Linked DNA regions of Homo sapiens. The protein of the gene in region 2 interacts with the protein of the main gene of each other region in a pairwise test. Each region holds a gene or a part of one and is shown on either strand. Other genes may lie near its edges.

Region 1 (7,905 bases), on a different chromosome or scaffold from region 2:
CGACTAATTTTTGTATTTTTAGTAGAGACAGGGTTTCATCATGTTGGCCAGGATGGTCTCGATCTCCTGACCTCATGATCCACCCGCCTCTGCCTCCCAAAGTGCTGGGATTACAGGCGTGAGCCACGGAGACCGGCCAACATGAGTTAAGTAGGTTAGTGATTACCACCCTAGAAGGCGATGAGGAAACTGACGCATAGAAAAGGGAAAAGAGAAGCAGATATGAGGAGGCGACAAGATTCAAATTTAAGTCTTTAGACACAGACCAGCTTTCTATTGAGTCTCCTTAGGCCCTTCTTCTTGAGGTGAGTTTTCAAGGCCATGCTGCAGTTTTCTCTTTCTTATTTATAAATAATTTACTAAAGTCTGTCTTAAAGGTAAGCAAGTGGGCAGCAGTGGTGATGAGGTGTAGTAATGAAGTTGACAAGCATGAACTTGGAGTCAAATCTTCTGGGTTCAAATCCTGACCTTTACACTTTCTTATGTGTAAAATGGAGGACAGTAACAATACCTTCCTATAGTGTTGTTGTAAAGATTACATTACCTTTAAATTTTATTTTATTTTATTTATTTCTGAGACAGAGTCTCGCTCTGTCACCCAGGCTGGAGTGCAGAGGCACCATCTTGGCTTACTGCAACCTCTGCCTCCCGGGTTCAAGCAATTTTCCTGAGTAAGCAATTTTCCTCCGGAGTAGCTGGGATTACAGGCACCTGCCACCATGCCTGGCTAATTTTTGTATTTTTAGTAGAGATGGGGTTTCACCATGTTGGCCAGGCTGGTCTCGAACTCCTGACCTCAGGTGATCTGCCCGCCTCGGCCTCCCCAAGTGCTGGGATTACAGGTGTGAGCCACCGTGCCCGGCCTAAGATTACATTAGATATACATGTAAAGTGCTCGTATAGCGCCCGCCACAATTGAAAGGTTCAATCCAGCCAGTTGCAGTGGTGAATACCTCTAGACCCAGTAGGGAAGCCGAGGCAGGAGGGTTGCTGGAGCCGGGGAGTTGGAAGCTGTAGTGTGCTGATATCTGGTCGGTGAATAGCCACTCACTCCAATTCATGTTAGCTATTATGAAAATGAGAAGGTGCAAATAGTGTGATTTCATGGGCATAGAGAAATTCCTCCTATGTCCCAAATACTGGTTGAAGATTCAATTGAAGATTATTTAGCCCAGATTAAAAGGCAAACACGATGACATTCCGTCTAAAAAGAGGTCAAAATTACAAGCCATCTCCTTCGCTCTCCCATGGTGAATTGGGGAGCTGTGGGATTGGTTGAGTGTATGCTGACTGCCTATTGGCAGAACTCTTTGCCCTGTGCCTTCTCATTGGAAGCTAGGTGGCCTATGGGTGGGCTGTCCTGGAGTCAGGTGCTAGCTTCAGTCCAATCAGAGGCCACCAACCTGTGGCAGTTCGTCCTATGGCCTTTCCCTGAGCAGATGACTGGTTAAGGGAATTTCCCTGCGGGGGGGCTTAATGGCTGATGAGAACCTTGGTTTATCAGACAATGGGAAAAACAGGTTGGAAAGTCCTTTTTTTTTTTTTCTTAATTTTTAAAGTTTAAGGCTGGGCGTTGTGGCTTACCCCTGTAATCCCAGCACTTTGGGAGGCGGAGGCAGATGGATCGTTTGAACTCAGGGGTTTGAGACCAGCCTGGGGAACACGGTGAGACACCACCCCCACCCCCCGTCTCTATGAGAAATACAAAAGTTAGCCAGGTGTGGTGGAGCACGCCTGTAGTCCCAGCTTCTCAAGAGGCTGAGGTGGGAGGATGGCTCGAGCCCTGGGAGGTAGAGGTTGCAGTGAGCAGAGATCCAGCCACTGCACTCCAGCCTGGACAACAGAGTGAGACCTTGTCTGAAAATAAAATAAAATATAAAAATAAAAAGAGGCCGGGCACGGTGGCTCATGCCTGTAATCCCAGCACTTTGGGAGGCCGAGACTGGTGGATCACCTGAGGTCGGGAGTTCGAGACCAGCCTGACCAACATGGAGAAACCCCGTCCCTACTAAAAATACAAAAAATTAGCCGGGTGTGGTGGCGTATGCCTGTAATCCCAGCTACTCGGGAGGCTGAGGCAGGAGAGTCGGTTGAACCCGGGAGGCAGAGGTTGCAGTGAGCCAAGTTCCCGCCATTACCCTCCAGCCTGGGCAACAAGAGTGAAACTCTGTCTCAAAAATAAAATAAAATAAAATAAAATAAAAAAACTTTAAATCATTCATCAATTTTAGTATTTACTGTTTCTTCTCCCATTCCATTAAGCCTATAGTCAGTCATAGAACAGAAAGGGAAAATCAGGGCAGCCACATATAAATACAGGTGCAAAGTTGAGGCAGGAGTGGACCCTCAAGGGCCAAGAAGAGGTCATTGCTGAGCTTCACATTTAGCCCTGGGCTTTCTGGAAGCCAGAGTGAAAAGAGAGACACAATCAGATGCGTAACAGTTATCAAAAAGCAGGAAGCACACCGGTTTTTCTGGTAGTAAAGCAAGGGCTTTCCAAGCTTTTAACTCTAAAGTAATTTATTTCGTTCTTTCTTTTTTCTCTCTCTGACACCCAGATTGGAGTGCAGTGGCACAATCAGGGCTCACTGCAACCTCTGCCTCCCAGGCTCAAGCCATTCTCCCACCTCAGCCTCTCAAATAGCTGGGACTACAGGCGTGCACCACCACGCCTGGCCAGTTTTTTGGTATTTTTTGTAGAGATGGGATTTCGCCATGTTGCCTAGGCTGGTCTCGAACTCCTGAGCTCAAGCAATCCACCTGCCTCGGCCTCCTAAAGTGCTGGGATTTCAGGCATGAGCCACTGCGCCCGGCCTAAAGTAATTTCTTACTTGAGATTTTATTTCAGGCTACTGTGTCCATGCACTGGGCAGTACAGCCTGGTGGGTAAGACAGCACAGTATTTTTTTTTTTTTTTTGTCTGCTGGGTTTGAATTTTGTTTTAATACACGCAATTTATTCTGTGCTTCACTTTCTTCATCTGTAATATGGAGATAATGGCATCTACCTATTAAAGTTGTGAAGATTCAATTAGATGAGTTGTATGAATAAATGTTAGCTGTTAGTTTAGTTTCGTTTTTTTGAGACGGAGTCTTGCTCTGTCGCCCAGGCTGGAGTGCGGTGGCGCAGTCTCAGCTCACTGCAACCTCCGCCTCCCGGGTTCAAGTTATTCTCCTGCCTCAGCCTCCCAAGTAGCTGGGATTACAGGCGCCCGCCACCATGCCCAGCTAACTTTTGTATTTTTAGTAGATCCGGGGTTTCACCAAGTTGGCCAGGCTGGTATCGAACACCTGAGTTCAGGTGATCCACTCACCTTGGCCTCCCAAAGTGCTGGGATTACAGGCGTGAGCCCCCGCGCCCAGCCAGCTGTTAGTTAATCAAGAAATTCGACTGCCTACTACTTAACCTGCACAGTTCTAGGTGCTGGGGAAACAGTGACGAACAAGACAAGATCCTTATCTTCAAGTAGCTTTTACATTTTAGTGGAGTAAAATGACAGTAAACATTGAAAATAAATTTCAGAAAGTGCTGTGGAAAAACTTTACAACAGACGCAGGAATAGATTTCATTTGACTAGTTCTCCCAGTTTCCAGAAAAGTCAAGGGTAGAATGTTAAAAGGCAACTCAGAGGAGGTGAATCTGTTAGGGCCTACGGTAATGCAATCCTGGTTTGTGGAATTCTGCAGGCTAGTGTGGGTAGGTTACAATTTTTTGGGGGAGTTGTTTTTTACTTTGTTTGAAAACTCACTTCTTCCCGCTGAGCTTTTGATTAGGAGCTGAAGTTGAATCAGTTTGAAATTGTATTCTGGACCGGATGCGGTGGTTCATGCCTGTAATCCCAGCGCTTTGGGAGGCCGAGGTGGGTGGATTGCTTCAGCCCAGGAGTTTGAGATCAGCCTGGACAAAATGGCAGAAACCTCATCTCTACAAAAAATACAAAATTTAGCCGGGCATGATGTTGTGAGTCTGTAGTCTCAGCTACTCAGGAGGCTGAGGTGTGAGGATCGCTTGAGCCCGGGAGGCAGAGGTTGCAGTGAGCCGAGATGCCACTGCACTCCAGCCTGGGCGACAGAGCCAGACTCTGTCTCAAAAAAAAAAAAAAAAAAAAAAAAAAGAAAAGAAAAGAAAAGAAATTGTATTCTGAATACAACTTCTAAAACACTATATTTACTTGCATTATATTAAACTGGTTTTATCCTGACCACAATTGCAGGTGGAAGATACCACTATTGTTCTATTTTTCTGGTAAGTAGAGTGAGCCATGTCTTGCCCAGGGTTACAGAGCTTGGAAAAGACGCCTCCTAAAAATCTGTAGGACCACCTTTGGTTTTCTTCCAGATTTTTTTTTGTCATCTCTTTTCCTCCACCCATTTCCCATCTGTCTAGCCATTCTTGCTCCGCTGGGCTTTTTCGCGAGCCTCTCCCCAGCTGCAGCCCCGCCCATCTCCTGGGGCGTGACCACCTGTCCAGGCCCCGCCCCCGTCCAACCGGCGGAGACCCGCCCCCTTTCCCGGACACCGGGCTCAGCGCCCGAGCGTGCGCGCGCGTCCTCGCTCGTCGCCCGGCTCGGCGTCGGGAGCGCGCTCTGTGTGGCCGCTGCCGCCATGTTGTTGTGGTTGTGAGAAGGCGGCGGCGGCGGCGGAGTAGCAGCCGGACGAGACGTCCCAGCGGCTCAGGCGCTGCCCAGCGCCGGCCCTGGCAGGGAGCCTGGTGGGGTGGCGGAGGGGGAGACTGTGCCGTGGAGGGCCTCGCCATGTCCTGCTGCCCGGTAAGAACCCCATCCCCGTCCTCCGTCTCCTCGGCGGGTGAGGAAGAGCTGGAGGAGGGGCCGGCCTCGGCCCCGGCCCTGGCCAGGCGGCTGTCACCCTCTGAGGAGGCAGCGCCCTGGGAGGGCTGGGGACTGCGTGCGGGGCCCGGGGAGGGGCGTCCCCGGCGGCTGTCGCCGCCAGGGGGAGGCGCTGGGTGTGGGAGTGGGAATGGGAGCTCGGCGGCCGAGCTCGGCCCGGACCCTAGATGCGGGGGAGGCGGGGTCCCGGGCTCGGGCTGCCTTCCCAGACCTGGCGGGGATGGGCCCGTGCGGCTCTGGGTGTGGGACGTACCCTCGGAGCGCCCGGAGTTATTCCCACGAACTCCCGGGAGGTGGGTGTGCGCCCTTCGCCCCCTGCCGGGTCTGTGGCGGTCCATCGTTGCCGGATACTGGAGGTCAGGGGCCATGGGAGCCCCGGGGCGAACGGTGCGGGCCTGGGCCTTGTGGAAAGGAGGAGTGACCGCCCGATCGTGCAGCAGGGCATCCCCCTGACCTGGTAGTACTTAGGTGGGTAGGATGATTGGGGGCGGTTGGCGTAACTGAGGGAACCCTGGTCAGACTGCTCCGCAAATGATTACAGTGTTATTTCTCCGGTAGTAATTTTGCTTGATGTATGGCATTTCCGGACCCATAAGATGATACTGTAGGTTGTATTTTGGACTGGAAAACTTATGTCAAAATTATGGGGTAGATTTTTTGGCCACATTAATAGACTCCCCTGGAATTTGATAATCTCACTTGTGAGTTTTGGACATGGACTGCTATTACATATTGATGTTCAAATGTCCTTTCCAGACCCAGGCCTAAATTCTTACTGTTGTAGTATCTTGATTCTGACATCTATTTTTCCACAACCCAAACAAACAAAACAAAACAAAACAAAACCCCAAAACCATATACTTTTCTAGTTAAGGTTCAACTTTCTCATATGTGAATGGTAATGCCATAAGAGGCCTGGGTTGAATTACAGGAGATTATTATTATTTTTTTCAATGTGAAATGTTTGTGATTTGTCCATGGAGAGGTGGTGGGGACCTTCCCCTTTCAGATTCAGGGCTGTTCAGTAGGACAGGAGACATTGATGGCATGCAGAAAGTCTTCCCTTTATAGGGCCTATGACTTGGGTAGGCTAGAAGAGCTTACAGAATGACACTTTTTTTTTTTTTTTTTTTTTTTTTTTTTAAGACAGAATCTCTCTCTCCCGCCCAGGCCGGAGTGCAGTAGTGCGATCTCTGCTCACTGCAACCTCCGCCTGCCAGGTTCTAGCAATCCTCCCACCTCAGCCTCCCAAGTAGCTGGGATTACAAGTGTGCGCCACCACGGCTGGCTAATTTTTGTATTTTTAGTAGAGACGGGGATTTCACCATGTTGGCCAGGCTGGCCTGGAACTCTTGACCTCAAGTGATCCGCTTGCGTTGGCCTTCGAAAGTGTTGGGATTATAGGCGTGAGCCACTGCCGCCAGCCAGAATGACACTGTTTTGAGTAAACCCAGTATAGTATGTGATATTAAATTAAATTTGGAGGATTCTAGAATTTTAGATTGGCTGCCTATGAATACCTCTTTTGGCTCCAATTACTCCCTCATTTTCAGGTGACTCAGAGAACTTCAAGTGACCAGCACAGTGGTACAGCCCCGCTTGTCGTTAATGACCAGCCATAAAAAACCCTGAGTTTCTCAGCTCATAGGCCAGGTTCTTCAGTGGTTGTCTAGTTTAAGGCTGGTCATTAGAAATATTATGGACTACCTAAATTCCTCGAACTCATGCAGGACCTGGTGAATTAAAATCTCTGAGGATAGAGCCTGGGGATCTGTCCTTACAAAGCTCCGTGAATGATTCTGGTCAGCAAGGCATGTGAACTTTTGCTTTAGGTTGGGTATTCCAAAGAAGTCCCATTAATTATGACTTCTCAGGGTGCTTTTGTTTATAGATCTTTAAGAATTTAAGAGGTGGAGAAGGGGAAGCATGAGAAACTTAAAGAGATGCAAATTGAGCATCTCTTAAAATATAATGGATTTATGTAGGGGAAACAGATTTGTTGCCAAAAGTTAATTTGCAAACAAGTTATTAGGAACACACTTGATAAAATTAGATGCTGATTAATTGGAGATATACTGTATCCAGAGATATATTGAAGGATCCAGAGGAAATAAACAGAGAAGGAGAGGGAGTAAGTCGGCTTCTGGCTCATAAAGGGGTCCACTGAAGATGCTTCCCACCATTATGGTTGCTCCTAAACCATCTGACTCAGATTTCTAGTGGAGGGTAGGATGGGTGTGTTAGCAATCATTTGAGACCCGGGTTGTGAACCAGGAAGGGTTACTATGTATTGTGAAAAGTTCTTGAGATTTGCCGCAGGCCATGAGGAGTGGTAAAGTCAGTTTAAAAATCTGCTGTAGTTCTAGTTAACACGTTCACACCTTCTTCAGTAAAGTGGAATGCTGTTACCAAAGGAAGTATTCGTGTTTTAGAGGGGGGTGTGGTGAAGGTTCTTACAAGTTTGGAAGAGGTGGAAGAAAATGTTGTTACAATTGTGTAGAGTAGTGAAGGGCTTTGGTAAATATCCTGTCAAATCATAGAGTAGTATTTTTAGAGTTGCACCCAGCTGTCCATTAGAAGAGCCAGAGGCCTTGTCTGTTTTGTTCCCTGGTGTCCCCAGTATCCAGCGCAGTTATCCGCATATTCTGTGCCCTCAGATATTTTTTAATTAAGTGAATACTATTGATATGGGAAAAAGAACAGTTATGGTGGTTTATAGCAGTGTTAGTTATTAAAAGCTACCTGATATTTTGCAATGGATTAAAGAGCCAATTTTTGATCAAATAGGGCTCTGGGTAGGAAAGAAAATGAAAATGAAGAGCCAGCTTTCAGTGCTTATTGTTTGGAATTTTTGAGATTCCTTTAAGAAATTGTTTTCTAAAGACTGTCATGAACATTATCGAGTCCCCTAGTTTTTGAGTCTTAATGAATCTTAAGTGTTTCAGATGTTAGTTACTTTTTTAAGAGCACAGTAAGTGCAAAGGTAGTATAGAATAGTGGGAAGTTCTGGATTGACAGACATATATTCTGATTCCATCTGTGTCATTTATTGCTGTTGG
Region 2 (7,327 bases):
TCTTGGAGCCTGGGGCTCCTTCAGGCAAGGACAAGCACCAGCTTTGCCCTGAGCCCCATTCTAGTTCTGCTAGCTTTCAGCCAGTGACTTCATGCCTCTCAGCTTGCATTTCTCCTCTATAAAACTTAAAACTGGGATCATTGTATGACTCCCACCCCCTAGGGCTGTGGTAAGAAAGGCAGAGCCCCGTCCCTGTGCTGCCTGGGTGCAGCGGGGGCTCCATACAGCAAGCTGCATCGTCAGCACTCGTGTCTGTGTCCTGTGCCGCCCAGGTGCAGAGAGGGCTCCACACAGCCAGCTGCATCATCAGCACTCATGTCTATGTCGCCATCAGCTCCTTGGCCATCTCACCATCCTCTGTGGAAAAGGGGCCACAGCAACTCCAGAACCTCCCGAGCCTTCCCACACACCCGGGTCTGAGGAGGGAAGGAGCTGGTGGGCTGAGACACCTCGGCCTCCACTGACGCGGCGTTCTCTTCCCGCAGCGCCTAGGACTGAGGGCACCGTGGCCCCAAGTGAAATTCCTTAAGGCTTCCTTTGTAACTAATGGGCATCTTGTTAAGAGTCACCACGTTGCTTTAATGGAATAATACCTAGGACTTACTTTTCCAAAAGAAGAGTTCGTAGGATTTATCTAGGAAACGCAGTTTGCAGGAAAATGACTTGAAGAAATAGCAGCACACGCTTTTGCAGGGGTTTCTTCTCCCCCACCAAGCAGCCAGCGGCCTCTGCGCTATTCTTAGCCCAAAAGTGCCTCTGGATAATCCTCTGGGAATCCCTTTTTAAGAGTTTCTCACACATGAATCCAGATCCTCGATATAAAATTAACAGGAACATTTCTGAAATACTCCACTTCCTCCCAAGATAGAGCAGCCAGAAGCTGACGCTGGCATCCGCAGCCCTGACTGTGTCAAGATCCAGTGGGAAAATTCACTGTCCAAGTCTCTGAAATGTACGGTATTTTCATCTGCATTGGATCAGACGCCCCCGTGTCCTTGTGAGGTGGCGCTCCCGGAACAGGAGACAGGGTGGGTCTCATTCCAGTCCCCGCTTCAGCAGCTGCAACAGTCGGGGGTGGATAAAAGACACCTGCACCTCCATCTTCCAGGCGTGTTCATGTGCGCACTGGCCCAAGAGAGTGTCTGTGCTGAGCATTCGACTGTTAGCAAAGTCGTATCTGCCACCACCGAAGGTTGGCTTGGGGAGTGGAAGAAAGGCCCTGTCTTGTAGCCGGGACCTTGACCCTCTTACAGCTGCCGTCCTCTCTGGACGCAGACCTCCCTAGAGGGCATGTTTGCACACCCTTGACCTCTGCAGGCTGCGAGTGAGCCGGGGCTCTGGGGGTGTACATGCTGAGAAGGGCGCCGTGTCCTCCAGGCAGGCCTGGGCCCACAGAGGCTGTGCGGGCCGCACTCAGCCCTCCAGTTTGCATCTCCAAACCCAGCCTCTGCCATTGCCGTGCCCTCTCTGTTCACCCTTCCTGGTGCTGCGCTCTCTAAGATGGTGGCAGGGACCAGCAGAAAGGACTCTCCCTGGTCCTCTGCCTTTGCCCCTGCCCCAGCCAGCTCTGCAGCTCCTGCTCGCTGCGTACCCTGTCCTCACACCGACACCGCAGGCAGGCAGGTCTGCCAGGTCACCTCTGAGGGACACGCTACTCATGTTCACAATCTTGGCCCCACACCCAGCGCAATCAACGCTGAGTAAATGTTGAACAAATAAGAAGTGCACAGCTAAAGAAAGCTCCCTCCAGGCCAACCCCCTGTGGTCACTACACTAATGGGGGTGGGGGGGGCTCCTGATCCAGGTGTGTGTCTGTCTCACGAGATTTCCAGAAGTGGTGGAAAATTAGTTTTGTGACAGCAGCCCCAGGTACAAGCCATGTGAAAGCAGGATGGTCTCATCTTATAACCCCAGGGGCTGCGAGAATTCATGCCGAGGCCCGGATCAGTTCCCTGCCTGGAAGAGTGGGCAGAGCAGAGGGTTCGTCACCACGGCTCCATGCGGTACTCCCACGGGCGCTTCCGTGCAGGGTGGCAAGGCGGGAGCTGCACAGACCCCAGGCGGCTCAGCGTGACGTCCCAGGGCTCCTGAGTCACCGGCCCCAGCCCAGCAGCGCCTGAGCCTTTGTGCTCCGTGAGCGTCTGAGCATGTGTGGGTTTTGCTAAAGGCTTCATTTCAACTCCAGAAGTTTTCTGTCTTCCCCGTCACCTCCCACTGTTTTTCCAGACATTTTGAGAAGGCACATATAAAGTTCACAGTCGAAAACTTGCTTTTCTCTTTTTAGACTTTTGAAGGGATCATATGTCTGGCAGGTTCTGTGGGATGGTTGTATGTGTCTAGGGCTGGCCGAATAGTTTAATACCAAAACAAAACAAGCTCAGAAAGAACATGTATTACTCTTGTCATTTAAAAAATAGGAACGTTGCTTAAAGACAAGTTATGGTTCCATTTTCTTGCTATTTGCGTTTTGAAGGAAAGGACAATCTGGGAAGCGTGGGTGTTACATGAGTGAAGACTTCAGGATCGTTTTGTTTTCCTTGGTGTTCTGTTGGCTGAATTGCAGGTTCAAGGTTCCTAAATTCTAAGTGAATAATTAAAAGCATGAGACATTGCAGGCTCCACGCGGATGCGGACCTGAAGGACAGGGTTCTGTCTGGCTGGAGCGCAGCCTGGGATGGGCCGGCGCTCAGGGAATGGCTTGTGCCTGCGGGATCAGTGGGCACCTTCATGGAGCAGCTGGCCCCATCCTCCTGACACAGATGAGGTTGCCCCAGCACCATCAGGCCCCTTCTGAACGCGCACAGCCTCTGGAGTCCAGAACCCAGCGGGACCCGCATTCCCCCCACTGAGCAGTGTACTCAGAACAAAACCACCCCGAAGCACCTGGGCCCTCGCGAGGTCATGTCGGTGGCCGGGCAGCGCACGCCCTGCCTTGCGTGGTTTCTCACGGCTGCTCACTAACGCCGACAGCTGGTCTCCAGATCCACAGAAAACCCTGCTTTAAAAAATAAAAGCAAAACCTCTTGCCTCCTGAATGCCAGGGCTCAAGCTGGTACAAATCTTTTTCTGTGGTAGAATTTCAAGCCCTGCAGGTGTCTGTGGCAGGAGGCTCTCAGAGCCCAGGGTCTTGGCTTCATCCACAGACGGCTGGGTTGAAGGGGTGGTTTGGAGCCTCATGCTGCCCACTAGGCTGTGCCAGCTGTGCACCACCCTGCTCCCCACCCTCCGGGAGCAGCCATCCCCTTCCCCTGCCAGTGCGCCCCTCCCCAGGGCAGGTTTCAGCCATGTCTGCCCTGGAGATGAAGGTTCCCCGTCCATGCAGTGCACCCAGCACCACCTGCGTGCGCCCGTGGGAAAGGATGACCACAGCCCCTCGGCCAGGAGGATGTTAAGGGCGGTCTTGAGTTCCAGGCCCCGTCACAGTCCAGGCAGCAGAGCCCATTTTGCCACTGGAGAGAGCCCAAGCCCCCTGCAGTCATTCTCTGACAGTTTCTGTGGCCTCCTGAAGCACACGGGGGTGTAAACAGTGGCCTGCGTGGAGGCCTCAGGCTGCTGGTGGCTTTCCACCCCGTGCCCACCGGCCAGGTCCCGGGTGGATGAAGCACTCCCTGACCCTCCGTGAATGCCACATCGCCCGGCTCCGGAAAGAGCATGGCTGGTGGATTCTTCCCGGGCCTCAACTCGCAGCCTCTGACCCGAGAGCTGAGGTGTTGGGGAGAATTGGACTCAAGGCTGGGACAGTGTGGAGGCCCAGCCTCAGGCAAGGGGGAGGACACTGAGGCCGCCAGGAGCCGCCCCTCTGGCAGGGAAGGTGAGGAGGGTGGGCCGTCATCCATCTCAGAGGCTTCAGGCCCTGACCCCTCAGGAGCCTCAGGCAGAGCTTCCTCCCCAGACATCCCGGCTCACACGGCCACGCCAGGGCTAGCCCAGTGGATGCATGTCCAAGAGTAAAGAATACCACTTGAGCTTCAGGATTGCCTTTGCGGGGGATCCAGCTGGGGCCTTCCATTGGTGTTGGTGCTTCCTCGGCCAAAGGCCTTTTCTGTGATTCTGAAGCGGCTCCACGCCAGCCTCTGCTTCGTGTGGCGGCCTCCGCGGAGCACGTCCCGTCTGACCTTCACACCCCCATTCCTTTGCCCCTAGGCCACCGTGAACGCCCGGCCGCAGCGCGTCCTGGACACCTCCTCCCTCACGCAGTCGGCCCCCGCCAGCCCCACCAACAAGGGCGTGCACATCCACCAGGCGGGGTAAGTGCCGCCCGCTCAGCCTGCAGGTCCGTGGTGGTGACCGGGGCCCCACGGGCTGAGCTGTCCCTGAGCCGGCCTCCCCATCCTCCTCCTTCCCCGCCCTGTCTTGGCTTCGTCTCCTCCCCCCTCTCCAGCGGGCGTTCTTTCCCTCTCCCTCCCGGACACCCCGGTACCCGCCTGATCTGAGCCCTGCCTTGAGCTCTCCCCATCTTGAGGAACCCTTCATGTGCACATCATCTCAGCAAAAGTTGAATGAAGCCTGGTCTCTGTGGCCTTTCAGAGTTTGTAAGAGGGGATCTAGATCTCCAAATGGGTAACCAACAGGTGTTTGCACCTCAGGACGTGGCACTGCTGTGTGCTGAGCTCGCACATCCCGGCCCACTCGACTCTGAGCTGGGTTCGTCCTGTCCGCGCCACCTCCCAGGGTGCTGGAGTTCAATGAGGGACAACCCTGCCCCCTGCCAGGCGGGCAACCGAGCAGCATGGACTCGGCACCAGCAGCTGGGGTTCGGGAGCCATGATGGCATGCTGGGTGACTGAGGACACCCCGGGCCCTGGTGGCACCTGGGAGGGTGCAGGTGGCCCAGGAAGTTGTTCCATGTTCCCTCTCGAAGCCCCAGACTCTGCAGAGGATGCAGTGTTTGTTTTTCTTCCAATGGCAGGGGCTCCCCTCCGGCGTCCAGCACCAGCAGCTCCAGCCTGACCAACGATGTGGCCAAGCAGCCGGTCAGCCGAGACTTGCCTTCTGGCCGGCCGGGCACCACAGGCCCCGCTGGGGCGCAGTACACCCCTCACTCCCACCAGTTCCCCCGGACACGGAAGATGTTCGACAAGGGCCCAGAGCAGGTACGGGAGCCCGGCTGCCTGGTGATCTGGACACTGAGAGCGTTGCTTCTCAGATGGGGGCTCATGGCCTCAGCCTCAGGCTGCTCACATCACCATGGGATGGGGCAGGACCCACCCTGCCGTCCTGGGTCTGTGGGCCACTCTCTGCCTTTGCAGACCCGGGTGCTGGTCCTCACTCGTGCACCCCTCTGCCTGCACTCCTTAGGAGCACTGCTGGGTGTGTCCCGGTCCCTCTGCCTGCACTCTTTAGGAGCACTGCTGGGTGTGTCCCGGTTCTCCGCCCCTGGTTCTGGTTTCACCATTCTGGGCAGCTTCCATGTAACGAAACAGGAGCACGGAGTTACCTGGCTCTGCCCTTCCTGGGCACACAGCACTCTGCGTCCGCTTGGGGGCAGCTGCACTGCAGAGCATTTGTTCTGAATGTGTTGTCTTTTCTGTGAACATCCAAGTACGCTGCATAAATAGGTACACTCTCTTTGCCTTTAACTAAGTTGAAAAAGATATTTCTGGAGAGAGGAATGCCTGCTTTGTTTTGCCAGGGTTATGAGAGTGGTGTGAGGTGGCAGCTGGTCCGGAGACCTCGGCTGTCTCGTCCAGGTGCTGCCACTTTGTCAGTTGAGGGCACCTGGGCTCAAGAAGGTGGTTCAGGGCGCACCCAGCACACCCAGCTGCTCTGGGTGCTGACAGCATGATCATCTCAGCAATGAGTGGGGTCCGGGGCTCGCTTGGTAATCCAGTGATTTTAAAAGAAGTTAGCGGCCGCCTTGCAGGATGCCCTGGAGCAGGAACGGCCATGTTGGGGTAGAAGAGCTGTCACGGCAAGAGCGGACAGGTCCCCACAGGTGCTGCTCAGCCCCAGCCCACCTGGACTTTCCGTGTCTCGGCAGAGGAGGAGCGAGAATCACCACCGAGCCCCAAGTGCAGGGTCAGCCTCCTGGCCAGGCCCTGGGGAGCAATGCTACCGGCACGTGCAGCTCACCCACCCGACCCCCCGGGGTGGGGGGGATGCACCTCTCACTGCACCTGCCCTGAGATCATGGGGAGCTCCCTGTGCCAAGACACAGCGTGAGAGACGCCAGCAGGCCACATGGCGTGGCACAGGAGACCCCTGGTGCCCAGCCTCACTCCACAAGCACACACAGACTCTGACAGCCCTGGCCGCCACAGGTTCCACAACAGGAAACACCCAAAGCTCAGTCCTCCTCAGCTCCACATCCTCTTTCTCCAGTAGCTGGGAGCTCCAGCCGGCCTGCAAAGCTGTGCGCTCCGTCCAGGCCACTTCACATGGGAGTCCCCGCTCTCAGTCTGGTGTCACGGGGCCATCACAGGAGCTGTCCTGGAACCAAGCGGCAGAGGCTTTTTGGGGGTTGATAAACCAGCACACATGGACGCACGTGGCATTGTCTGAACAGTCAGTTAGAATTGACTTGGGAGCTGTGCTGGGTCGGCCCTGGGGATGGTGGGACCGACGTGGCTCACACTTCACAGCCCGGGCCCCTCAATCCCTGGCCAGACGTTCAGGGGTTCTTGGTCACCAGGATACGGAAGTGAGCAGAGCACAGAAGTGCCGTCCTTAGGGGCAGCCCGGTGCTCCCGGCAGCGCCTTTGTCCCCAGCTGCAGCTCTTTTGAGCTCAGGAGTGGCATGACTGACTGGTGTTTCTTTTTCCTTCCAACCCTCCTGCTTAAACCCTGAAGACTGCGGACGACGCGGACGATGCTGCTGGACACAAAAGTTTCATCTCCGCCACGGTGCAGACGGGGTTCTGCGACTGGAGCGCCCGCTATTTTGCCCAGCCCGTCATGAAGGTGCGCCCGGGGTGTGGGGTTCAGAGTAGAGTCCTAGCGAACATGTGTCTGTCCCACTTCTTTGAGCATAAACGCTCAAGGCTTGTGGCTGTGGGAGCGTCCCATTGTGGTCGTGGTAGTGATGGTCACGGTTGAGGTAGAACCGCAGAAGAAACAAACTTCACTTACCTTCCTGTCGCCAAACGAAAAGAGAAAACCTGCCTCGCTGGAGCTTCCCAGTGTGACAGGTGTCACTTTGCCTTAACTGACAGGGTCACCACAGGCCTTCCCACTCCCTAATGGTGAGGATCACTCGAGGCCCATCCCAAGGCCACGCTTGCGTGGCTCCGAGGTCTGGGGACTGTTAGACGCAGCCTGCTGCAGCCAATCCTAGCGCATTTGGGGTTACACCACAAGACCATCTCTGAGGCTCAACCCTGACACAGCC
Region 3 (7,327 bases), on a different chromosome or scaffold from region 2:
CTATGAGGGATTTCCTTGGAGACTGTGGGTGAATAATAATGTTGTCTTAGTTCCATGAAGGAATCTCTGGGGATAGTTTTTGAGTTAGGCCTGGCAATGTTAGAGATACATAAAGAGAGCCTTGTTTTATCACTGGGTGCGGTGGCTCACACCTGTAATTCCAGCACTTTGGGAGGCTGAGGCGGGCAGATCATGAGGTCAGGAGATCGAGACCATCCTGGCCAACACGGTGAAACCCGTGTCTACTAAAAATACAAAAATTAGCTGGGCGTGGTGGCGCATGCCTATAATCCCAGCTACTCGGGAGGCTGAGGCAGGAGAATCACTTGAACCAGGGAGTTGGAGGTTGCAGTGAGCCGAGATCGCGCCACTGCACTCCAGCCTGGGTGACAGAGCAAGACTCCGTCTCAAAAAAAAAAAGCTTGGTTTTCAATGGTTCTGAAAAATGCTTTAATACAAGTGTAGAGTGTTAGTCAAGTTTTGCACTTGGATAAACAGCCTGTGAATTTATCACATTTCTAGTTTATAATATGGGCTTTCAGAAGTTATATGAACATTGTTTTGACGGGAGAATTCAAGCTGGATGCTAGAGAAGGATCGTGAGAACCCCTTCATTGGAGGAGTGCTATGAAATTATTTGATCTTGGAATTTTTTTTTTTTTTTTTTTTTTTTTTTTTGAGACAGAGTTTCGTTCTTATTGCCCAGGCTGGAGCTGGAATGCAGTGGCACGATCTCGGCTCACTGCAACCTCTGCCTCCTGGGTTCAAGCAATTCTTCTGCCTCAGCCTACCAGGTAGCTGGGATTACAGGCATGCGCAACCATGCCCAGCTAATTTTTGTATTTTTAATGGAGACGGGGTTTCACCATGTTGGTCAGGCTGGTCTTGAACTCCTGACCTCAAGTGAACTGCCTGCCTCAGCCTCCCAAAGTGTTGGGATTACAGGTGTGAGCCACTGCGCCTGGCCTGATCTTAGAATTTGAAGGAGAGACTAATATTTCATGGGCAAAAACAATGAAAAGTTACCTTTCTGTATTCTAATACTATAGAGGAGTGGGATTTATTTAGAATGTTTTAAGTATCTTGGGCAGTCCAAGAGTGCGTATCACTTATTTTTCTTTTCCTTCTTTCTTTTTAAGTGGAAGTTCACTGATGTTAGAGATCATAGGTGGCATTGCCTACTTTTTACATAATTTTATCATGTTTAGTGATCTGTCAGAAGGGCTGTGGCTGTTTGCAGTTTTGGCTTAAGCCATGCATGGGCTTTATAGGAGATGTAGTCTTCACAGTGAGTTGTTATTTGTAGCTGTGTTTTTGTTTTTGTATAGCTTATAGCAATGCAGTGTGCTTTTTATTAACATCATTTTCTTTTTCTTTTTGCAGTGATTATTTATTCAAGTTACTTCTGATTGGCGACTCAGGGGTTGGAAAGTCTTGCCTTCTTCTTAGGTTTGCAGTAAGTTGAAATTGAAATGTCTTTACAATTAATGGTACAATTAATGCTATGTATGTTTTCTAGGTAGATAAAATTAAACAGTTTTATTCAGAATAAGTTAATTCTTCCAGAATTTATATATTTAAAGACTCCAAATATACATCCCCAGTGGTATCTTGGACTGTTAAATAGAAAAATATTGTTGCTCTTAAAAGAAATTCAGTGAAGTATGGTTATAAAGTCAGAATGTCTAATACTTTTGGTCAGAGTCAAACAGCAGTTCCAATATAGGCAGCAAGTTAAAGGGGTAGTTGGTGGCCTGTGTTGAAAGCGACTTGATGAAAATAAATCTTTAAATTAAACTTTAGTAGAATAAGAAGAAAAAGCAGAGCCAGGTGACGCAGTGGATCATGCCTGCAGTCTCAGCTACTCAGGGTGCTGAGGGTGGAAGGATCACTTGAGTCTAGGAGTTTTGAGACCAACCTGGACAACATAGCATGACTCTGTCTCTGAAAAAAAAAGTTAATAAAAGAAAAAGTAGGGTCTTGGACAAACTTCGTTGGCCAATGGCATAGTTCTAAATGCTGAAGCTGACAGATAAAGGACTTTTGACTTAACAGAATCCACAGTGTCCTTCATAGTCTTTATCAACTACCTTTAAATTTAGCATGTTTCCTGGCCAGGTGCGGTGGCTCACGCCTGTAATCCCAGCACTTTGGGAGGCCGAGACGGGCGGATCACAAGGTCAAGAGATCGAGACCATCCTGGCTAACACGGTGAAACCCCGTCTCTACTAAAAATACAAAAAATTAGCTGGGTGTGGTGCCACACGCCTGTAGTCCCAGCTACTCGGGAGGCTGAGGCAGGAGAATCGCTTGAACCCAGGAGGCGGAGGTTGCAGTGAGCTGAGATGGTGCCACTGCACTCCAGCCTGGCAACAGAGCAAGACTGTCTCAAAAAAAAAAGAAAAAAAATAAAAAAACAAATTAGCATGTTTCCCTTCTAGAGATCATTGTTTCTCAGAGCATGGACCAAAGACTCCTGGGGGTTACCAAGACCCTCTCAGGTAGCCCATGAGGTCAAAATATCCTAATAATACTAAGATGTTAGTATTTGTAAGGAAATATTTACTTGGTAATAATACTAATATAAAAGATGTTTGCGTTTTTCAGTGATGACATTGGCTCTGGTACAAAAGCATGTGGGTAAAATTGCTGCTGGCTTGGTACACATCAAGGCAGCGCTAAGCTCCAAATTGTACTCATGGTGATGGCATTCTTTACCTCTGTGCCCTCACAGGAACAAAAACAAGCCGTGCCATTTTTATTGAAGATTGTCCTTGACAAAACAGTTAAAATGATTAATTTTTGAAAAATGTTGATCCATGAGTATTCCTTTAAAAATATTTGTGAAGAAATGGGAAGTTCACATAAAACAATGTTTTTTTTTTTTTTTGAGACAGATTCTGGCTGTGTTGCCAAGGCTAGAGTGCAGTGGCGTCTGGCTCCCAGGCTCAAGCTGTTCTCCCACTTCAGCCTCCCAAGTGGCTGGGACCTCCCAAGTGGATGCGCCATCATGCCTGGCTGATTTTTGTATTTTTTTGTAGTGACAAGGTCTCACTGTGTTGCACAGGCTGCTCTCAAACTTCTGAGCTCAAGCGATGCATGTGCCTCAGCCTCCCAAAGTGCTGGAGAAAGCACTTTTTACTGCATACTGGCTAGTGTGTTGGTTATTTTGGAGAAAAGAAAAGCATTTGTAGTTTTTTGAGTTGTAAGCTGAGCTAACTGCTTTATTTTTTTCTGTGGAACACCATTTCTTTTTTTTTTTTTGAGATGGAATATTGCTTTGTTGCCCAGGCTGGAGTGCAGTGGCACAATCTCGGCTCACTGCAACCTCCGCTTCTCGGGTTCAAGCAATTCTTCTGCCGTAGCCTCCCAAGTAGCTGGGATTATAGGCACCTGCCACCAAGCCCAGCTAGTTTTTGTATTTTTAGTAGAGATGGGGTTTCACCATGTTGGCCAGGCTGGTCTCGAACTCCTGACTTCGTGATCCGCTTGTCTCAGCCTCCCAAAGTGCTGGGATTACAGGCGTGAACTACTGCACCTGGACATTTTTTTTTTTTTTTTTAACTTGAAAGAACAGCTAACAGACAGATTAGAACAGAATTGGCTATTTGACAGATTTTCTCAGATGAACTGTGATAGTCATTTCAAGGGAAGTAGCTGCAAGCATTTGTTGGCTGAAATAAAATTTAAGTTTATCATGGAAAATTAGAATTTGAAAAAACTTAGAGTTTACCACTTGACAGTATCCTAAATACATATGACTTTTCTGATGAGTGCCGATATTAATGAAGGTTATTTAAAAAATATTAAATAATGTATAATTCTTTTTATATAACAGTTAAAAATAAAACCATGAGTACTAGAATAAAACATAGGTGGCTCTTTAATCTTGGTTTGTGAAGGTATTTTTTAAAATAAGAAAAAAGCAAGAAATCACTGCTAAATTTGACTATTAAAATTAATTTATCACAGGCACAAAAATGTTAGAAAACTAATGGCAATAGCAAATATATATATATGAGGATTGGTATTCTCAACATATAAAGCACATTTGCACATCAACAAGAAAAGAATATTTCTCCTAATGGAAATAGTGGCAAATACATGAGCAGTCAGTTGAAAAAAGAAGTAATACAAATTGCTGGCTGGGTGTGGTGGGTCACGCCTGTAATCCCAGCATTTAGAGGCTGAGGCTGGCGGATCATCTGAGGTCAGGAGTTCGAGACCAGCCTGACCAACATGGAGAAACCCTGTCTCTACTAAAAATACAAAATTAGCCGGATGTGGTGGCGCATGCCTGTAATCCCAGCTACTTGGGAGGCTGAGGCAGGAGAATTGCTTGAACCCAGGAGGCGGAGGTTGTGGTGAGTCGAGATCGCACCATTGCACTCCAGCCTGGGCAACAAGAGCGAAACTCCATCTCAAAAAAAAAAAAAAAAAAAAAAAAGGAAGTAATACAAATTGCCAATAAATATGGAAAAAAAAAAAGGCTCAACTTTATTTGTAATTAAAGGCCTTTAAGTTAAACTTAGGTGTCATTTAATTTTTATTAAATTGGCAAATATTAAAATTAAGCATAATTCTTAAGCAACTCTCGGTAGGTGGGAAGAATCTAGCTGTAGCCTCAGGCGTTTGTGCCTCAAGGAAAACCCTCTCTGGGATGTCCATTGCTTGAAGTCAAAGGTTTTCCAATAATACCTGGAAACTATTTTTAAAATGCTGATCCCCATACCCTCAAAATATTAATAGAGACAATCGTGAGGACTATAATAAAGAAATGTGCAATAAGCTCTGGGGGCACAGAGGGAAGAATCTATTGGCTGAGGAGTTGAAGAAATTGTTTGGACACTCAGTATTGCCTGAGCTCAAAACTGAAGGATGAATAAATGCCACATGACCTTGGGGCTGGGGAGTAAGTAGGGTTATGCAGAGAGAGATAACTGAGGCTTTTGGGCAGACGAATAGTAACGGCTCAGGCATGGGAGTAAAGGTCATTTAGAGATTTACAAGAATTCAGCATTTCTTTCTTTTTCTTTTTTTTTTTGAGATGGAGTCTAGCTCTGTCATCCAGGCTGGAGTACAGTGGCATGATCTCAGCTCACTATAACTCCCACCTCCCGGGTTCAAGTGATTCTCATGCCTCAGCCTCCCGAGTAGCTGGTATTACAGGCGTGTACTACTGTGCCTGGCTAATTTTTGTATTTTTAGTAGAGATGGGGTTTCACCATGTTGGTCAGGCTGGTCTCCAACTCCTGAGCTCAAGTGATATGTGCACCTCTGCTCCCCAAAGTGCTGGGATTACAGGCGTGAGCCACTGTACCCGGCCAAGAATTCAGTATTTCTATCCAAGTACCTGGGGGATAGATGTGCTACATGAATATTTATTGCATTCATTTTGTTCTCTGCATTTTTTTTTTTTTTTTTTTGGTTTGAGATGGAGTCTCGCTCTGTCGCCCAGGCTGGAGTGCAGTCGTGCAATCTCGGCTCACTGCAGCCTCCACCTCATGGGTTCAAGCGATTCTCCATCTTGGTCTCCTGACTAGCTAGGTTTACAGGCGTGTGCCATCACACCCACTAATTTTTTGTATTTTTAGTAGAGACAGGGTTTCACCATGTTGGCCAGGCTGGTCTTGAACTCCTGATCTAAAGTGAGCCTCCCACCTTGGCCTCCCAAAGTGCTGGGATTACATATGTGAGCCACTGCGCCTGGCCTCTATATACTTCTATAGTACCTGATACTTATTAGGCACTCAATTACAACATAACTTTTTTTTTTTTTTTTTTTTTTTGAGACAGAGACATGCCTTGTCGCCTGGGCTGGAGTGCAGTGGCACAGTCTCGGCTCACTGCAACCTTCACCTCCCGGGTTCAAGTGATTCTCCTTCCTCAGCCTCCCGGGTAGCTGGGATTACAGGCGCCCGCCACCACGTCCAGCTAATTTTTTGTATTTTTAATAGAGATGAGGTTTCACCATCTTGGCCAGGCTGATCTCAAACTCCTGACCTTGTGATCCACTCACCTTGGCCTCCCAAAGTGCTGGTATTACAGGTGTGAGCCATCATGCCCGGCCCATATTTCTAAAAACATTTTCTTATAAAATGACATTGCCATTATCAACCTGCAAAATACAGTTTCCATTTGGTTGTTTTCTTGCTTAGTCTTTTAATCTAGAGTTTTATACCTTATCTTTTTTATTTATATATTTTTTATGTCATTGACTTTTTGCAGAAACTGAAGCACTTGTCCTGTAGATTGTCCAATATTCTAGATTTGTCATTTTGCTTCCTTGTGATGTCCTTATGCTTATTTGTTTGTCCCTCTTTCTGTAATTAGAAGACCTAGAACTGCACTATCCTTAGAGTAGCTACTAGCTCTATGTAGCTATTTAAATTTAAATTAATTAAAATTGAAAAAGTTTGGTGGCTCACACCTGTAATCCCAGCACTTTGGGAGGCCAAGGTGGGAGGATTGCTTGAGTGCAGGAGTTCAAGGCTTCAGTAAGCTACGATTGTACTCTAGCCTGGGAGACATCAAGACCCTGTCCCTTTAAGGGGGAAAAATAATTGAAAAAATCAAAAACTTAGTTTCTTGTTTCACAAGCTGCATAGGGCTAATGGCTACCATATTGGCTAGCACAGCTTATAGAACCTTTCCATTGTCACAGGAAGTTCTGTTTGGCAGTGCCGTTCTCATTAGACCTGATTCGATTAAGGTCCATCTTTGTTGACAGAGTACTTCTTAGGTGGTGCTTTGTGGTTCATATGATGATAGCCTGGTCTGTTCATTCATATATCTTTTCACGAGAAATATTTTTATTCCATTCTGAATAAAATTTCATGGCAGGTACTTGCAAGAAGCAGTTATAATTTTAAAAGTTTAACATTAGGTTAAAAAATTGACAGGAAACATATATTCACAGGAAAACTTGTACACAAATGTTCATGGCAGCATTATTCATAATAGCCAAGAAGTGGAAACAACCCAAATCAATTTATGAATGGATAAAATGTTGTATATTTGTAGTACATGTAATATTATTCAGCCAATAAAATGGGCCAGGCATGGTGGCTCACACCTGTAATCCCAGCACTTTGAGAGGCTCAGGCAGGGGGATCACTAGAGGTCAGGAGTTTGAGACCAGCCTGACCATCATCACGAAACCCTGTCTCTACTAAACGTACAAAAATTAGGCAGGCGTGGTGATGCACGCCTGTAGTCCCTACTACTCAGGTGGCTGAGTCATGAGGATTGCTTGGACCCCGGGAGACAGAGGTTGCAGTGAGCTGAGATCATGACACTGCACTCCAGCATGGGCAACAGAGCAACA
Region 4 (7,327 bases), on a different chromosome or scaffold from region 2:
AAAGGAGATTAAATCTAAAATTCAGCTATACTTTCCAGGAAAACATTTCAAAATTGATAAAAACAAAGGCAAAATTGTAATTAATTGCCATTAATTTGAGAGCAAGCGTTTTCTGAGGTTTTCCACAAGGTGTCAGTATTTCCTCAAGTTTGGCATTTAAAGTGCTTAAAGTAAAAATGTAGCTTTACGCAATGAGCTGTGTAAAATATCACATTGAGTTTTATATAACTTGGTTTTCAGAGTTGTGGTTAAATAAGGATAAATGGCTGGGCATAGCAATGTGTTGTATTTATAGTCTTTTTTTATATTTAATATCCTATATGCTGCTAAGAGCAGTCACCCTTAATATACAGTTAAAGTTGTTCAACTTTTATGTCTCAGTTACAAACTGTCTGTAAAAAAATTCTTTTTTTGAGAATTATTAGTATAAAACTGCCATATACTTTGGACAAAGATAAATACTTGCAGATTCTTAAAGTAAAACCTTTACAGTAATTTGTTATGGATTTTTAAAAGACTAGAAACTTAAAAATGTGTTAAAACCAAGATACTGCAATTTTTCCCTTTATTTTTATTTTAAAGAAGGTGAGGGAAATGGTAAATAATTTCAAATTTTATAGGCCGCAAAAGATAAGTACCGTGAATTGGCTGTGGAAGGGATGCACAGAGAACTTGTGTTCCGGTTTATTGAAGTTCAGACACTTCTCCTCGCTCCATTCTGTCCACATTTGTGTGAGCACATCTGGACACTCCTGGGAAAGGTACCTTCATGCATTTAAAATGTTTCGAGTGGTTTTGATTTTGGCTTCATTAAATAAGTGTTGTGCTAATATTGTTACTTAAGAGAGAAAGTCTGAAAGTGAGTAATTCAAGAGTAATGCTGGATTCAGCATCATAATTATGACGGGTTAAACCAGAGCTATCTCCTATTCAGATGGATATATGTGCCCTTATTTATATACACAACAGTGCATACATATTTTTAAAAGGTGAAAATATTGAGAAAGATATAAACAATTGTTATGAGCTGCTTAAAAACAAAGATATAGGTGTATATTTGTGTATATTTGTGTAAGTATTCTTGTTTTATATAAAACTTCTGGCATATATAGGACTTAATATTCAGGGATAGTAGCATTCTTACTATGAATATAAATTCAGTTATTTCTCCCAGGCTTACAGATAAATAGATTGGCTGGTTTAATAACTCCTTTCCAGCCATATTAGCTAGGCTCTTTTGTATTTTTAAATGCATGAACAATACAGAAATGTGCTCATGATCTATATACCAAATAACCGTACTTGAATACTGGATGTATTAGCAGGATAAAAACTGAGTGTATGCATAATTTATATAATAATGATTAAATTTAGGCAAATTAGCATTACATAATTTTCTTTGAAAGTGAGCATATGTGTGTGGGTATTAATATGCTTGTACAAATGGATGCTAATTAAGAATGTAGAGTCAGACTTCACAGCTTGAATTCTAGGGAACATTAGATCAGGGGCTGTGCAAGTGTGTTATGTGTAGTCAAGTTTGAACTCTGAGCACACAATTACAGATGGTATCCTTGGTATGAAACTATAATCAAGAACCGTAAAATAGTTATATTGTCTAATCTCACTGAAGGTTTTTTTGTTTTTCTTTTTTTAAAAGCCTGACTCAATTATGAATGCTTCATGGCCTGTGGCAGGTCCTGTTAATGAAGTTTTAATACACTCCTCACAGTATCTTATGGAAGTAACACATGACCTTAGACTACGACTCAAGAACTATATGATGCCAGCTAAAGGGAAGGTAAAGTTTTTTTGTTTTTTTTTTTAAAGGATTATTCCTTAAAAGTTATTGATCAGATAACATTTAACAATAATGAAAGTTAAAAAGATTTTCATTAATGGTGAAGACCGTGGTGGTGTATGTTGGGGGAGGGTTCTTCTCATTTTTGGTTTATATAAAAGCTATTGAATGTTTTTCCTTTCTTTTACCGTCTAGAAGACTGACAAACAACCCCTGCAGAAGCCCTCACATTGCACCATCTATGTGGCAAAGAACTATCCACCTTGGCAACATACCACCCTGTCTGTTCTACGTAAACACTTTGAGGTGATGCTCTCAGTAGACTTTTCCCCCCTGATGGTGTTGTATGCTCCCTATGTTGTTTTTGTTTTTAGGATGTTGGCAATGTCTGGGAGAAGAAAGATAGGCAGCTTTGTTTCATTCCCTCTAGGCAGACAGCATCCTTTTGTTATTCTTGGTGGCTCTTAAATGGATGCTGAGGGAAAAGCTGCTGTTTTCCTCTCATTTCTGAAAAATTTATACAAAAATACATTGGATCTAGTTGAATGTAATCAAAAGAATTGGGGGTTTTCATATGTGTAGTTGAAATGATGAAATAAAAGGACAGAGTTTGCCTTTGGAATTTGTTGTAACTTGAGCAGTGGGAGTCATTCATTAAATTTATTCATTCATTATATTCATTCATTAAATTATTTCAAATCGTAACCTTGTTTATTGTTTGGAAAAAAGTGAAGCTTTGTTCTTGAGTACTTTAAATGTTGTTTGGTTTGATAATTACCTATAGAAATGTAGAGCTTGAAGACATTTTTGGCTGTGCCAGGTAATGATAAATCCACTTAAAGGGAACTCAATAACTTAGATCTAAGTTTTCCTGAAAGAAAAAAATGTATTTTTCCTCTGCATTCAAAATGTAGAAACAAAGTATGTTTATGAACTTTGGCTTTTTTGCTTAGGTTATTAAAACAGTTATTGCTAGATGCAGACCACTAAGGTGCACTTTAAAAAGAGAGACAAAATACGGATTGTGGTCAAAATGTAAAGAAGAAACGTAAAGGAAAAATTCTTAGCTTTGATATTCTAGACCATTATTGGAATTTTGCCTCAACACTTTTCATAGTTAATTAAGAAATGCTAAGAAAAGCTGCTTTTACATATGTAAAATTTGATAGAGAAGAGCAAATGTTTTTGTATTTCTTGTGAGTCTATTTTTGTGGAGAACTATTTCCACCTTTGAGTATATATGATAGAAATAGAAGGTGGCCTTTAGAATCTGCTTGCAGATTTTGAATTAAGGTAAATAAAAGATAAAAGCTACTTTGGTTGGCACAAAAGTGAAACTACCTCAGTGGATTATATATTCATACCAGCAATTTCAAGGAAGCAGTGGAAGAACCCAAATATAATATGTAATGTCTTAGGTATTAAAAAATGCATCACCTCTGTTCTTTTTGAAGTTGTTTTTTTACTTACTATTCATTTGCTAGATAATTGAAAACAGTGGTATCTTTTGGCATTAGCAGCTGTCTTTTAGATTTTTGTATGTTTTCATCCACAGGAATGAAAAGAATGTTCATTTATAATCACGAAGAGTGTTCTTATGTTGAATGTGGCACCATTTTGGTGACATAAGGCAAAGGAGTGTTTCCCACCCTTTTTCTTTTTCGTGTGTTTCAGAGGAATATATTAACAAGTAGAATATTTTTTTCCCATGTACTTTAGTAAAAGTTAGAATTGAAAATAGATTATTTGAAATTGTATTATATGTTCCTTTTCATTTAGATTCATTCCCAACCCTTCTTTTACAATAAAGAGAAAACAAGTTGCCCAAAACTTTGAAAAGACCAGTTGCTTTATTTCTCACTCTATTGAGGGGACCGTTAATATTTGTAGAAAGAAATGAATTTAGATTCATTTAAAGCACACTTGGATTGTACTCATCAGTGATATATGATATGGACATTTATTTTTGAGTAGATAGAAATGATTCTGTTTTTAACAGGTCAGTAGCTAGGGATTCTTTTCACAATTGTGGTAACAGTTTCTTCCAAGTGTCCAAAAGCAGACATTATATAAACTTGTATGATAGTTGTGTAATTTTTTATTTTAATATGACTAATAAAATGCTTTTAGAAATTTGAAAACAAGTTTTTATGAGACCATTTAGTTTCTGAACAGGAGAAATATTCAACACAAATCACTTCTTTTTCTCTTCTAAACTAAAAAGTATGTGTTGTTAATTTATAGAGAATAGGAGAGTTCCTTCTGCATTGTTCATTGAGCTTTCACTTCCCCGTGATGCTAGGGCTGGACACTTTTCTGCTGTTCTCTAAGGATTGATAGAGGCCACCATTCTATGCCTGGTCACATCTACTGTTCTGCCTTATTCTTGAGACTTTTTTTTCTACATTACTCTCCCTCCTTCCTTTTCTTAGGCCAATAACGGAAAACTGCCTGACAACAAAGTCATTGCTAGTGAACTAGGCAGTATGCCAGAACTGAAGAAATACATGAAGAAAGTCATGCCATTTGTTGCCATGATTAAGGTAAGCTGTGGACCTTATGCAGCTGTGACCACATGAGCAATGGTTAGATGGGACAATAGAAGGATGGGGAAAAGCCTTGGACATAGTCTCCTGCCAGAAATCTGCTAAAATAGCACTTTTCAATCAATGACTGAGAGAAATGATCTATCAGATTTTGGGTTTACTTGTGGAATTGCTGAGTATGTGAAAAATATTATTGTGGGAGAAAAATTGGTTTAGAATGGCTGCACTGAACTATTCCCTTCATATTCTACCTTCCCTTCTTTCAAACTCTTTTGGCTTACATTAGGCTTATAGAGGCTTGCATTTCCTAGACCCTATTCCTGGAACCAGGATTCAACATTTGTATAGGTATAGCTTAACAGGGTAAACATTGGTTATAGTGGTTAGACCAGGGTGTCTCAGCATAGCTCTGTTGGTATTTTGGGCTAGATAGTTCTTGTGGGGCACTTTCTTGTGCACTGTAGGATATGTAATGGCATCCCTGGCTTCTACTCATTAGAAGCCAGTAGAACTACCTTTCCTGCTAGTTATGACAATGAAAAATATCTCCAGACATTGCCAAATGTCCGCTGGGGGCAGAATCACCTTCCACTTCTTACCATTGAGAATTATTGGGTTAGACCCTTAGTTTTCTTCATATACGTCGCTGATGTATTACTGGATTTCTTGACAAAAAGAAACCGAAAGAAGGCTTATATTGCTTAAGATCGCAGGCTATGGGGCCAGAAAAATCTTGGTTGAAATTCTGTGTATCAGTCACTCCTTAGTTTTGAGACCTTGGACAAATCACTTAAATTTTCTGGGCTACAGGATTTTTCATCCATAAAATGAGGATACTATAGAACCAAACTTTTTAGGAGTGCTGTGAGGAGTAAATAAAATAGTGTACCTAACACACTTAAGTAGCACTAGTCAAGAAGTAGGCTCAGTAAATGTTGTTTAAAAATACAAATTAGTATCTTCCAGCCTACTAAGCATATTGTAGTTATTCTTGTACTGTCCTTTAATTCTTGTGTCTTCTTGGCTGCAGATGCCTGATGGAGACCAGACCTCTTAACTTCTTCAATATTATAATAGATTAGTATTCTTGGAAAAGGTTTTTAATTCTCTTAGACCAAAGTCACTATTTGATCCTCAGGGTATTTTAAGTTTCAGAAGTAATTTAGAATCCTGTGTTGACCTACACTAATCAAGTTGTAATGTAAGTGCTGGTATGTTCATAGTTCGTTGGTTCCCCAGTGGCTAGTGTCATTGGTCATAATGCCAAATCTCTGTCAACATGTGGATCCAACAAAATATTCCATTGATGGTTGCAAAGGCAATTAATTTTGATGACATGTTTTAAAAGAATCCAGGGAAACCTATTTGAAAAGTAGTTATGTGTATATGTATATATATATAGAGTGTGTGTGTGCGTGTGTGTGTGTGTATAAAATGATATTAGATTCAAGAGTTGGCTTCTTTAGGATCTCATTTAAATTTGAAGAACCAGCATCAGACCGTTTGAGTGGTAATATATTTTTAAAATTATGTTGGTGATTTGCCAGGCAAATTAGTGGTTTTGCAAATTTTGGAAGGGATTAATACATCTGGGAATAAGAAAATGACTTTCTAGCACTTCCATGAGAAAAAGAAATAGAACTTGCATAGTAAGCGAAAACAGTGAGTAGCAGGAATAATATCAGGTCACTTTCATTAAGTATAACATGTTCTAGGTAGTTATATCTGCATATGTACTTGGATCTCTAGGATTCTATTTTGCACAGCAAATATTGACTACCCAAGAAAATTAAGAATAAGAAATTATTTTTTACATGCCATGTTTGAGTACTCATGTAGTATGAGTTTTTTTTCTTTAAACTTTGCAGAAATATCTTTGGGGATTTTTTGTTTGGATATTATTAATTCACTATTCTCTGAAACAGCTTTAAGAAGGTGGTATCTCAGAAAATTAAAATTTTGTTTTTTTTGGGTAACTTAAAGGGATATTTTCACACATTTGGCTGATTCCCTGTAAAGTGAATTCTTTGGGCTTGCATGTTAAGTCAGTCTAAATAAACAATCATAAAACCGTATTTATTTTATAAATCTGAAAACCTTGTGCCTTCCCATCTTTTCAGTGCTGCCATAATCTTATAATACTTTAAAAGATAATTATTTGGAGCTAGTAAATTTCATTAACAAGCAAATGTAGGTAAAGGAAATCATGAGTCCAAGGCCTTTCCTTTAACTCCTGAAATCTGAAGATTTTATCAGTTGAGAGAAGAATGATTACTTTGGAGGAAGTATGTTTTCCAACATATTCTTACTGTGATTTTGTTTTTCCATACCATTTTGGCTATTAGGAAAATCTGGAGAAGATGGGGCCTCGTATTCTGGATTTGCAATTAGAATTTGATGAAAAGGCTGTGCTTATGGAGAATATAGTCTATCTGACTAATTCGCTTGAGGTAAGAGGGCCAGGGATTGTAATAACCAGTTAACTGTAGTTAAACCATAATCCAGCTCTTTTATTTTATAATAAACCTTTTTATAAATTTCATCTTCTGTGTTTAGTATCTTTGTTAAATATATTAGTCGAAAATATTTTTGGAGAGAAGAAAAATGGGTGAGTATAAAAGTTGCAGGAAAAAAAGTGATATGTCATCTTATTTCATCAATTCTTAATTTACATATAATCAATTATACATTAAAAAACTGTATATCTGGCTATTCTACTGCAAATTATTTTTAAGAGACCTTATATTCAAATGCTTTCCAAGCCTCTCATGTTATGGAGTACTCTGAATTGTTGCCTTTTTTCCCCCCTCCCTTTTGATTTGCAGAATTGGATTAATTATAATCTTTGGTTTAGAATTGCTGCACTGATATATTGGTTCATGATATATTATGGTTCATGATATATTATGATTTGGTTCATGATATATTATGATTGTTCCATGTCTTGCCGTGTTTTTTTCCTCCCAATTTATAATAAAAT

The links.
Region 1: the proteins of RPTOR (region 2) and MTMR3 interact in binary tests that used the Homo sapiens proteins (3 or more experiments, as listed by UniProt).
Region 3: the proteins of RPTOR (region 2) and RAB1A interact in binary tests that used the Homo sapiens proteins (3 or more experiments, as listed by UniProt).
Region 4: the proteins of RPTOR (region 2) and LARS1 interact in binary tests that used the Homo sapiens proteins (3 or more experiments, as listed by UniProt).

The regions. Positions count from the first base shown.
Region 1 is NC_000022.11:29,878,592-29,886,496, forward strand, and holds the start of MTMR3 (phosphatidylinositol-3,5-bisphosphate 3-phosphatase MTMR3), read left to right. Parts: upstream 1-4,582; 5' UTR 4,583-4,768; intron 4,769-7,905. UniProt on the Homo sapiens protein: Lipid phosphatase that specifically dephosphorylates the D-3 position of phosphatidylinositol 3-phosphate and phosphatidylinositol 3,5-bisphosphate, generating phosphatidylinositol and phosphatidylinositol 5-phosphate.
Region 2 is NC_000017.11:80,918,581-80,925,907, forward strand, and holds part of RPTOR (regulatory-associated protein of mTOR), read left to right. Parts: intron 1-4,143; coding exon 4,144-4,247; intron 4,248-4,909; coding exon 4,910-5,093; intron 5,094-6,789; coding exon 6,790-6,900; intron 6,901-7,327. UniProt on the Homo sapiens protein: Component of the mechanistic target of rapamycin complex 1 (mTORC1), an evolutionarily conserved central nutrient sensor that stimulates anabolic reactions and macromolecule biosynthesis to promote cellular biomass generation and growth.
Region 3 is NC_000002.12:65,098,863-65,106,189, reverse strand, and holds part of RAB1A (ras-related protein Rab-1A), read left to right. Parts: intron 1-1,383; coding exon 1,384-1,456; intron 1,457-7,327. UniProt on the Homo sapiens protein: The small GTPases Rab are key regulators of intracellular membrane trafficking, from the formation of transport vesicles to their fusion with membranes.
Region 4 is NC_000005.10:146,123,452-146,130,778, reverse strand, and holds part of LARS1 (leucine--tRNA ligase, cytoplasmic), read left to right. Parts: intron 1-620; coding exon 621-761; intron 762-1,660; coding exon 1,661-1,801; intron 1,802-1,996; coding exon 1,997-2,107; intron 2,108-4,233; coding exon 4,234-4,344; intron 4,345-6,692; coding exon 6,693-6,797; intron 6,798-7,327. UniProt on the Homo sapiens protein: Aminoacyl-tRNA synthetase that catalyzes the specific attachment of leucine to its cognate tRNA (tRNA(Leu)).